2 separate regions of the Homo sapiens genome follow, and region 1 is linked to region 2. The links come from fine-mapping of genetic effects on gene expression. A gene starts in region 2. The other region holds a variant in brackets. All regions are shown on one strand. Distances are between the middles of the regions. Region 1 holds the start of RNF224 (ring finger protein 224). Region 2 holds the start of TOR4A (torsin family 4 member A).

What was found.
Region 1: its variant is fine-mapped to the expression of TOR4A in whole blood (TOPMed, PIP above 0.99).

Annotation. Positions count from the first base shown.
Region 1 is chr9:137,227,087-137,232,422 of GRCh38, forward strand. RNF224 (ring finger protein 224) reads left to right here and starts at 416. Exons shown (of 3, transcript NM_001190228.2): 1 at 416-775; 2 at 1,066-1,255; 3 at 1,536-2,554. The coding sequence starts at 1,250. The coding sequence ends at 2,000. It overlaps SLC34A3 (solute carrier family 34 member 3), which reads left to right and starts at 3,815. Exons shown (of 13, transcript NM_001177316.2): 1 at 3,815-3,852; 2 at 4,578-4,701; 3 at 4,986-5,075. The coding sequence starts at 4,617. RefSeq lists enhancers at 85-585, 375-524, 719-1,344, 2,612-3,112 and silencers at 511-805, 625-694. The variant C/T (reference allele first, on the strand shown) is at 2,214.
Region 2 is chr9:137,275,065-137,280,419 of GRCh38, forward strand. TOR4A (torsin family 4 member A) reads left to right here and starts at 2,662. Exons shown (of 2, transcript NM_017723.3): 1 at 2,662-2,843; 2 at 3,589-5,355. The coding sequence starts at 3,626. The coding sequence ends at 4,897. RefSeq lists silencers at 2,563-2,882, 3,163-3,222.

The sequences.
Region 1 (5,336 bases), 48 kb before region 2:
GCCCTGGTGTTCCGGGCAGGGCAGAGACAAGGCGAGGAGGTGGCAGCCGAGCTGGCCACGCAGGACAGACGGGTCCTCACGCCATGCCAGCCCTTCCCTGACGCATGGTGACCAGCTCCACAGCAGGGCAGGGCAGGCGCGTGGCATGCAGAGGTCTCCAGGCGTGGGACAGATGGGTCACTGCCCTGACCCTGTGCCAGGACTTAGCGTGCCAGGCTCCCCGCCTTGCCCCGTTGCTGGCCCCCACCAGAGGGTGACCACACCCAGGCCAGCCACGAGAACTTGTCTGACCAGTCCTGGGGGCAGACTGCCAAGAAGGTGGGCAGGGGTGAGGAGGGGCCATTTGCTTCCACCCAGCGGGGCTGTGAGTGGTTCTGGGGTCCTGCCCACCTGTCCCAACCCTTCTTGGTCCCTCAACTCTGCTCTGCCTGCAGTCTGGTGTGGACACACTGATCATACCTCCCGGAACCTGGGCCTCCCAGGGTGGCCTGGAGGCTGCAGACGGGCAGAGCAGCCAGGAGCTGCCCACCAAGGAGGCGTCTGGCACTGTCTGGGGTCCCGAGCTGGGAGCGGGGATCCCCAGACACGGAGCTGGTGCGCCACCTGGAGTCCATGTGGACTGGTGCAGCCCTCTGCCGTCCAGCCGGCATCAAGGTGAGGCTGAGAAGCCACACAGATCCACAGACAAGCACAGTGGCAAAGTCTGCAGAAGGCTCTGAGCCAGGAGGGAACCCTGGCAGGCTTCCTAGAGGAGGAGATGTGAGCAGAGGCCAAGGCAGGAAAACATTCCAGTATGGAGGGGAGGTTAAGGGAAGGAGAGGGTAAGAGTGAGGGAGCGGAGGGAAGGGGAGGGGAGGGGGAGGGGGAGGGTGGGGGAGGGGAGAGGTGAGGGAGGTTTTGAGTGTGGCGAAGGGTGTGAGCGTGCTGAGAAGCCCTAAGAGTGGGGAAATGGACCCCAAGGCCAGCCTGGATAAGGTGTTAGCAGAAGCTGGCTGGGTCTGGACAGGAGGGGGTGGGCAGGGGGCGGGGGGCACCTTATCTCTTGCAAGTGGGTGGTGCCGTTAGATCTAGTTTCAAGGCTTTGTGGCTGAAACGGGAGCCCACGCCCGCCACAGCTGGCCACCTGCCTCTCTCCTGACTCCCGTGCAAGGCCAGTAATGCAACCCAGGAGGGAGCCGCAGGGCGCCCTGGGTCCCCCACTCCCTTCTCCGGCCACCCCGTGGCTGTGCATAGCTGCCCAGCAGAGCCCATGCAGGTAAGAGGCCTGGGCTCAGGTCGGCCAGGAGGGTGGGGGCCTGGAGCTGGGCCAGGGTGGTGCTGCGGGAACAGGAGGCTGCCCGGCTGGTGCCCACATGAACCAGAAGTGTGCAGACCCTGGTTCTGCCTGTGCCCGGTGCCACGCTCCCTCCCAGGTCTGCACGCACCACCCCCACAGACCCAGCGCCTGACCTCTGGGGTGGGCTCCTGGGGCCAGCACCCCATCCAGGCGGAAGGTCCTCGAGGCAGGCTGTCCACCGCTGGCTTCCCTCTGGCAGGATGCTGCAGCCGGAGGGCCCCCAGGCCTCGGAGGAGGGGGGCCCCCGGAGGAGAGGACAGACTGCATCATCTGCTGCTCGGCCTATGACCTCTCCGGGCACCTGCCCCGCCGCCTCTACTGTGGACACACCTTCTGCCAGGCGTGTGTGCGGCGGCTGGACACACCGGCGCCCGAGCAGCGCTGGATCCCCTGTCCGCAGTGCCGTCAGAGCACGCCCACGCCTCGCGGAGGGGTGGCCATGCTAGACCTGGACCTGGCTGCTTTCCTGGCGGTCAAGGCTGAGCGGGAGCCGGCAAGACTAGAACCCCTGCCCCTCACCTCCCTCAAAGGCAGCGCCATCACTCGGCAGCCAGCTGGGCTGTGCCCTGCCCTGGGACCCCAGCCCCACTTCCCCCAGCCCAGATACTGCTGCTGGGGCTGTGGCAGCCTCTGCTGCCCACCCCTAGGCAGCCCCGAGGTCTGAACTCTGGCCATTCCCACCCCTGCAGGGGAAATGCCTGCCTTGGAACCCCTGACCACACACCATCATGGGTTCAGCCCACTCAGAACAACCTGGCAGTAGCATCCTATACGCAGCTTCGTGTGGCCCAGCAGGGTGGTGTCATCCCAGCCGTGAACATCCCAGGCCACAGCCTAAGGTTGGGGGCTGGGAGGCTCCGCAGGAGGCTGGTGACCT[C/T]CCACCTGTCCTGGCCACAATTACCAGACCCCAGACTAGCCCGACCGGATGTGCCTGGTGAGGACACTGCTGTCTGAGTGGGCGGCAAGCCTGGCTTGGGCCTAGACGCAGCGCAAAGGATGGCTCCCAAGAGGATGCGAAGGCGTCCCGGGGGCCTGGGCTGCAGGCTGGAGGGGCAGGGCCGGTCTGGCTATGCCTGGCGGGCTGCCCAGAGCAGGTCTCCCCTCTCCCACAGACGTCCCCGGGGTGTACCGGGAGGGTGGCAAGACTACCTCCTTCCTCCCTGCCCTGCATGGCAGCCCTGTGAATTCACCCACTCAACAAAGCTCATGGAGTTCCCACTGTGTGTCGGGTGCGGTTCTGGGAGGGTCTCGTGTAGGCACGAAGCCATACAGGCATTGAAGGGGATGCCTCGGCGGGGCCTGCCTGAGGCCAACAGAGGGCTGGGGCCTGCTTGAGGTCTCACAGCCCAGTTGGTCTCATCCTTCGCTGAACCTTTCCTGGCTCCGAGCAGCCACCACACAGACCCTTTTGAGGGGCCGGGGCTGGGGCTGGGGCCAGACTGTGGACAGCAGTTACCACCAAGTCAGTGCTGCAACACCCCCACCCCCACTGGAACGAGCTGTCACTCAGGAGCCCCAGGGAAGGACTGCTGCCCCCCACCCCCAGAGCAAGGGCGCAGGAGGGAGACGGAAGAGAATTTGCTGAGCGGACACTCAGAAGCTTCTACCTTCTCCAGGGCAAAGTCCCCATGCACACAGCGGGGGCTGGGCAGCAAGCAAAGCAGGGCACCAGCAGCCCCTGGGCAGGGTGAGCCTCTGGGGGAGCTGCCCCGCACCCCAGGGCAGGAAGAGGCCCAGTCCTCCTAGGGGACACCCCACAGGCGGTGGGGCCAGCTGGGACTCCGCTGGGGAGAACTGTGCGCTGGGCCAGGCAGCGGGTGGGGAAGGTGGCCTGGGGAGCTCTGTCCTCCCCTCTGCAGATGGAGGCTGCCGGCCGCCGTCGCTGGCTATACCAGGGCCGAGCCCGCTAGCAGCCTGCTGGGCCCAACCCTGCCCTGAACCCGGATCTGAACCCTCTGACCTCGGGCTGGGTGCCCTCCCCGGCTACGTGAAAAAGCCCGTCCTCCCCCACCACCTGGTGCAAAGGGCTTCCCTCCCCTGCTCTGCCGAGGGCAGGGATGACCCTGAGAAGGTCTGGGGAGCCCTGAGGTGCATGGAAGTGGGGGACTGGCGTCTCTCGACTCCCGGGCAGCCCCAGCCATACTCTAGCATCCTGCCTGGCTGGGTGGAGTGTGTCTCTTGGGTCACACGGATGCCTGCTGAGGATGCCCAGTACCGAGGGCCGGTGCCCCGCCCCGCAGTGCCCTCGGCCTGATTCAGAGCCCACCCCTGGGAGGAGCCCCACTCCAGGAGGGTTGGGCTGGGGCTTGGAGGTCCTAGCCACAGAGTGACAGGATGGAGACAAGGCCTAGGGGCCTTGGGGCCAGGAGGGTACCCCCGTGAGGGCCTGGGCTCCTGGGTAAACATTAATGGGCTCAGTACCCAGCAGGTCATGTGCGCGATCAGGGGATCTTTGACCTGCAACTGCTCCCGCCCCGTGTCTCCTCCCTGCAGGTGCCCCCTCACCACCCACACAGGTAGGAGCTCCTAGGACCAGGCTGAGGCCCAGGGACAGTGAGGCCGAGGCTGGGTGGCCTCCAGGCCAAGGGCTTGGGCCCCATCCTGAGTCTCCAGGACCCAAGGGCAAGAGACGCCAGGCTTGGGCAGCAGGAGGGAGGGTGAGGCACAGGACGCCTGGACCTGAGCCCAGGGCACTAGGTGGAGGGGTCCAGGTGGGGGGCCCCAGGGGTGGGGTGACCAGGCCCAGGAGGCTAAGGCAGCAGCTTCGGGGCCAGGAGCCTTGAAGTGGTGTGAGGACCCCACCTGCTCCCCATCACCAGGGCGTGGGGCCCTTATCAAGCCGAGACGTCACTGTTTAGTATCAAATGCCAAAGTCTAAGTCGGGACCATCCACAGTGTCCCCGATGACACCAGATAGGGGAGGTCCCCAGGTTCCCCAGCTCATGGCCTGCACCCTCGGCACTAGCCTTCCAGTCAGGACCAGCAAGGGAGCCGGGGAGCTGGAGCCCCTTCGAGTCTACCCCTGAAACTGGACTGGGCTCGCCTGACAACTGCCTGAGGTCATTGTAGCCATCCCCCTGTGGATGGAGAAAGGGGGATGGTCACTGAGGCCTGCAGGGCGTAGAGAGGGAGGGTGGCGGCCAAGGGCTCAATTCAGGGGACCCAGGGGTGTGAATCCAGCTTGTGAGGACAGGGCCGGGGCAGGAGGAAATGTCTCTGACACGCGCGTCCCCCCCAGCAGATCTAGACCTGGGCCTGGGTCTGTCCCTGCCCGAAATCCATGCCGAGTTCCCTTCCCGGCAGCCAGGTCCCCCACCCCACTCTGGACGCGGTTGACCTAGTGGAAAAGACTCTGAGGAATGAAGGTACCAGTGGCCCCTGTGCCCCAGGCCTTCACCAGTCTGACCACCCACCCCCCAGGCACTGGGCAGAGACAGGCCAGGTTTCCTGCGGGCCTCCCGGGGAACCCACAGGGCTCATGACGCCTCCACTCAGGTCCAGCCCAGCTGGAGCCCCATCTTCCCCGTTCCGTTTCTGTCCCTCACTCCAGGCCTCTTACGCCTCAGCCCGTCCTCCGGCCTGTGCCCTTGTGCCCCCAGTTGGAGGGAGGTGGTCCTGGAAACAGCCGTACTCAATTCTACCTCCACAGGGACCTCCAGTTCTGCTCCAGTCTTGGAGGAAGGGGACACAGACCCCTGGACCCTCCCTCAGCTGAAGGACACAAGCCAGCCCTGGAAAGGTGGGTCTGGAGGTTCCGGGGGTGGCAGGCTGGCAGGCCTCTGTCCCCAACGGGACTGGGGAGACAGAGCAGGGTGGGGCCTGCCCAAACAGGCTGTGTGTGGGGAACTCCGCCATGCAGGCCCCCTCTGGGGAGACACGTGTCCCTCAACCGGGTGTCTGTGCTGTCCTGGGGCAGACCGGCCACCTCTGCCCATCCGTCCCTCCCCTCCTGCTCCTGCGAGGGAGGGTCCCAAGGGCTTCTGGCTTGGAAAGGCAGGAA
Region 2 (5,355 bases):
TCTCCTGCCTCAGCGCCCCCCCCACCCCAGCATCTGGGACTACAGGCACATGCCGCCACGCCCGGCTAATTTTTGTATTTTTAGTAGAGACGGGGTTTCACTGTGTTAGCCAGGATGGTCTCGATCTTCTGACCTTGTGATCCACCTGCTTCGGCCTCCCAAAGTGCTGAGATTACAGGCGTGAGCCACCGCGCCCGGCCTGGTTTTTTTTTAAAGATAGAAGAAATAGATGTTTCTGGGCTGATGGGAATGACCCAGTAGGGTGAGGAGTGGAGGATGGTCCAGGGGCTGGGCTGTCACTGAATGAGCAGGTGGCCGGGGTCTCAGCACAGCAGGGGTGTCCTCAGAGGAGGGCTGATGGGCGCAGATGCTGGGGTGACGGCTGAGGAGACACTGGGAGTCCACTGCTGCTGCCTCCCATTTTCTCAGGTCTTGGGCTAGGAGGCAGGATAGGGGGAAGTGGCAGGGGAGAGGACGAGTAGAGGACTTGACTGTAGGAGGAATGGTCAGTGAGTGGACCCGGGTGCCTGGTTTGGTCACTGGGCAGCGGGCGCGTCCTGTCCAGGGCGCCTGCAGGGGGTGCCAGGCCTACGGGTGGGGAGTGAAGGACAGAGAGTGAGGAGCCCGTGGGTGAGGGACTGGTGAGGTGGAGGGTGTGAATTGCAAGGACTGGGATGGGACCGTGCGTGGACGGCTGAGCCTCGGGGGCGCATGGTTACTGTAGCGAAAGCCTTTAGGGGCAGAAAGAGCAGAGCTGCCTGAGCGACTGGGTGTGGACGCTGCTGGGAAGTTAGGGAGAAGGACTTGGTAGGGGAGGACCGAGGGCCCAGGCACGGGAGGCATCGTCTGGTGAAGTGAAACCTATGGGGAATTTGGGAGGAGAAGTGGGGAGGCTGCCCACGGTTTGGGGAAAACAACCTTGCTGGCAAGGGCTGGGGGAAGCAGTGAGGGTGAAGTCCTTTCAGAGGCTGAGAACATGTACTGTGTTTGTGGGTGATGGACATGAATTCTGGGCGCAGCGGCAGGGCTGGGTTGGGTAGGGAGGCGGGAGGGGAGGCCTCCTGGAATGGGAATGGGTGTGATTGGGGGTGGCCCTGGGTATCACAGGAGATGGTGATGGCCCTGGGAGCTGGGGTTCTGGGGCTCCCTTCACCCCTGTAGATGGGAGAAAGTGCAGGGGGTGAGGCCTTGGCCCAGGCCTCAGATTCACCTTTGACCCATAGGGCCAGGTCTTGGGGCACCCCTTGAGCGAGTCCCTTTCCTGCAGAGGGCTCTGGCCTGAGGATTTGCTGGGCCAGCCTCTGGCAGAAGCAGCTCCAGCCCTGGGTGCACTTGGAGGCAGGGCAGAGGCTTTGCTGCAGGTTTTCCAGGGCTCGGTCAGCCTGCATCTGCCCGAGGGCCTCCCCTCCAGGGTCCTCTCTGTGTCAGAAGAAGCACCGAGACTCAAAGCCTGAGGCCCCCAAAGGACCCCAACCTCCGTGCTGGGGCCACGGGGCCTGGACAGCCAACCTCCTTCCGCTCTGGTCCCACAGAGGCCGGGGAGTGGGCCCAAAGAGCACCAGCATTCCACCTGGTGTGTGCGGCCCCCGCGGCCTCGACAATTGGGGATCCGGGCCCCCGAGCACCCCTTGCACAGGGGAGGGGAGCCCTAGGCCTGGCTCCTGGAGGGGAGCGTGATAGTCCGGTGGACCCCATACCCTGGAGAGAATGGAAACCCCCAACCCACGACCGGTTTCCCTGATGGAGCCTGTCTGGTTGGGTGCAGTGTGTGAGGAATATACAGCTGGAACCATCAGGCCCGGGCTGGCTGTTGGGAGGAGTGGGGCGTCCCTGGGACTGCGGGGTCCTGAGCTGAATGCCAGCAGCACTGGTGTGGCTGGAGCGGCCACCTTGCCCCTCCTTGGAAGGCGGCTTCCAGGCTGGGCCAGGGTAGGAGGAGTCCAGGGTCCTTTAGGCAGGCCGGCAGGGGGAAGGGCCCAGAGCTCCAGCTCCTGGCTCCCGGCCCAAGTTGTTTCTAAATTTGTTCCCCAACCCCCACAGGGACCCTGAGCCGCACGTGGTTTTTTCCGTGATAGAACTTCCGTCTGTGTGTGCTGGCCTGTCCTGGGCAGGGGGCTCCAGGCTGGGGACGGAGGAAGGGGGAAAGGAAAGACAATGAGCCCACTTTGGGGGGCCCCCGATTGGGGTCAGGAGGGGAATGAAAAAGCGGGGAGAGGAGTAATAAGAGAGGGATTGGGGGTATGCAGCTCGGCAGAGGACCCTGCCCGCCCCCTGTGCTGCTGCCTTGCTCCCGCCTTGCTTACACAGGGCCTGGAGCCCCTCCCCCCAGCTGTAAGCCCTGTGTGTGGGGTGACAGGTGGAAGGGATAACCTGGGGGAGGTGGGGGCCCTGGAGGACAGGCTGAGGTGCAGGAGCCCAGGGTGGGGGCACAGCATGCAGCAGGGGCCCTCGGCCTCACCAGGTGTCCTGAGCCTGACCAAGCCAGGAGGGCTCTGAGCGCTAGAGAACTGAAGCGGGAATGTGACCTCCGGCCAGGGGATCTGGGCAAGCCGGCCAGGCCTCCCCCCTTTGGCGCCTCCGTCCAGCCCAAGTCCCGCCTGGGCCGCACCCCCTGACTCACTTCCTTTGCATAGAAGCGGAAACCTCCCCAGAGCTTCCTCTACTCCGGCCGGCCGCTCCCTGGGGACCCACAGGTGTCGCTGCCCCTCCAGGCCGAAGCTGGCCCAGGAGGCCCCTGGCCCACCCCCTCGCCCTGGGAGGCGCATTTCCTGCTTGGAGTCTCAGGCCCCAGCGTCTGGCACAGGCAGGGGCCTGCGGAGCTGAGGGCAGTGGACCAGCTGCAGGTAGGGGGTGGGTTGGGGCCCAGGGCCCAGTTCCTGCCAGTCAGTGGCTCTCTTGCTCCGACCGGCCTCTTCTTTCTGTCCATCTTTTCGTTTCACCTCCACTAGTCTCCGGGGGGCTCCCTGCACTGCTCAGCTCGTTCACTGGAGGGGTGTTGGGAGGACCCCAGTTTTGGAGTCGGGGCTGGGAGGCCTGGGTTGAGCCTGGGGACGGGGCCCGGGCCTATTCTCAAAATCATAAGTTCCAGCCAGACCCCCGCCAAGTGTTCTGGAGCGTGTGGGGGCGTCTCTGAACTCCTGGGCGCTCAGGCCTCTGCTTCCCGCGGCCCCTCCTTGGGAGACGGCCCAGTCCAGTGGGAGCCGCGGGCGGGGGCAGGGTCCGGGGGTGACTGTTCACCCCAGTGGGCGCCTGGGCGGCCACTGACTCCTTCGACGACTCCTCCAGGAAGCCGGGGCGGCCACCAGATAAGCCTCTACCCCGCCACTTCCTCAAGGCCCGCGGCCGTTTATGGGAAGACCCGAGAGATTTGCATCGGGGCCCTGCGGAGGGGCGGAGGGGCGGAGGGGCGGAGGGGTCGCTTGCCGGTCTGAGGGGCGAGGCCGCGACCAGGCCCCTGGCCCTGGGGCAGCCCGGGCCGCACCCCACGGGACTCCCAGGGGGTAAGATCACTCCGGGGACCGGTTCCGGCGGCCCGCGGGAAAGGGCAGTGGCGGGAGTCCAGAGACCCTCCCCGTCTTCCCGTTGCAGGGAGGGCGACCTGTATGCGGAGCGCCGTTCCTGCGACATGGACCGCGGCCAGCCCAGCCTGGAGCCTGCTGCCGCGGCCCCCCGAGCCTCGGGCCGGTGCGTGATCGCGCCCGTGCGCGCTGTGCTCCGCCTGCGCCGCCGGGTGTGTGTCCTACGCAAACGGCGCCTCCTGCAGCCGGGTGGGGGGCCCGACGTCGGGACCGGGGCGCCCAGGCCGGGCTGCAGCCCCCGGGCACCGCGCGCGGACCTGGACCAGCCAAAGTTCTTCACCTTCGACAGCCCCGCGGAGCTACCCTCCAGGACGCCACGCAAGAAGCGCCGGCGCAGCCGCCTGGTGCTTTACCCGGAGACCTCGCGCAAGTATCGGCCGCGCGTGGAGCACAGGAGCCGCGCGCAGCGCTGCCTTCTGCTGCTAGTCGCCATCGTGGGCTTCCAAGTTCTCAACGCTATCGAGAACCTGGACGATAACGCGCAGCGCTATGACCTCGACGGGCTGGAGAAAGCGCTGCAGCGCGCGGTGTTCGGCCAGCCCGCTGCCGTATCGCGCATCGTGGCGCTGATGCGGGACTACCTGGCCACGCATGTGCACAGTCGTCCGCTCCTCCTGGCGCTGCACGGGCCCAGTGGCGTGGGCAAGAGCCACGTGGGCCGCCTGCTGGCGCGCCACTTCCGCTCGGTGCTGGAGGACAGCGCGCTCGTGCTGCAATACCATGCGCGGCACCACTGCCCCGAGGCGCGCGCCGCACAGGACTGCCGCGAGGAGCTGGCGCGGCGCGTGGCCGACGTGGTGGCGCGGGCCGAAGCGGAGGAGAAGACCCCACTCTTGGTGCTGGACGACGTGGAGCTCATGCCGCGGCCGCTGCTGGACGAGCTGCACGGCTTCCTGCAGCCGCAGCGCTCCCACCACTTCCACAACGCCATCTACGTGCTCCTCAGTGGCGCGGGTGGCGCCGAGGTCACGCGCTTCGTGCTGCAGAACGCGTCCCGCGCGCTGCCCCTGCGCCCCGACGGCTTCCGCAGTGCCGAGGCCGCAGCGGCGCAGGCGGAAGAAGACCTGCGCGCCAGCCTGCTGGCTGTGCTGTCCCGGGAGCATCCGCTGTGGCAGGCCGCGGCCATCGTGCCGTTTCTGCTGCTGGACAAGCGGGATGTGGTCAGCTGCTTCCGGGACGAGATGGCGGGTGAGGGCTTCTTTCCTGACCAGGCCCGCGCGGAGAACCTGGCCGCGCAGCTCAGCTTCTACCGCGTGGCTGGCCGCGAGTTTGCCGTCACCGGCTGCAAGCAGGTGGTGGCCACGGTGAACCTCCTGTAGTGGAGGCGCAGGACGGGACGTTTGGGTTGATGGCGGCAGTAGGAGGGCGACCAGGGACCTTGTGGGCTGGTGCAGGCCCCTGAGGTTTCTAGTGAATTTGTGGCTGCCCGGCTGGTGGGTGCGGATCAGCTTGGAGCTCTGCTTCCAGGTCCACACCCGCCTCAGAGTCCGGAGTCTGTCCCTGGGGGCGGCAGGACAGCAGCCACCTCCCTCCCAAACTTGCCCATTGCCCTGCTGGGCGTCCCAGGCATGGTCTGGTGCGTTCTCCCTGTGGCCCCAAGAGGTGGGTTCCCATGGTACAAGGATGATCTCAGGGCCAACAATTCCCGGGGTCACACAGCTGGGACGTGACCCCGCCTCTTGGGGGTGGTCGCGTGTTGCTCAGTGCTGAAGTGGGGTTCTCATTCCGGCCCCCCTGGAGATGACCCCGGAGGAGGCCACAGCCAACCATGACAGTG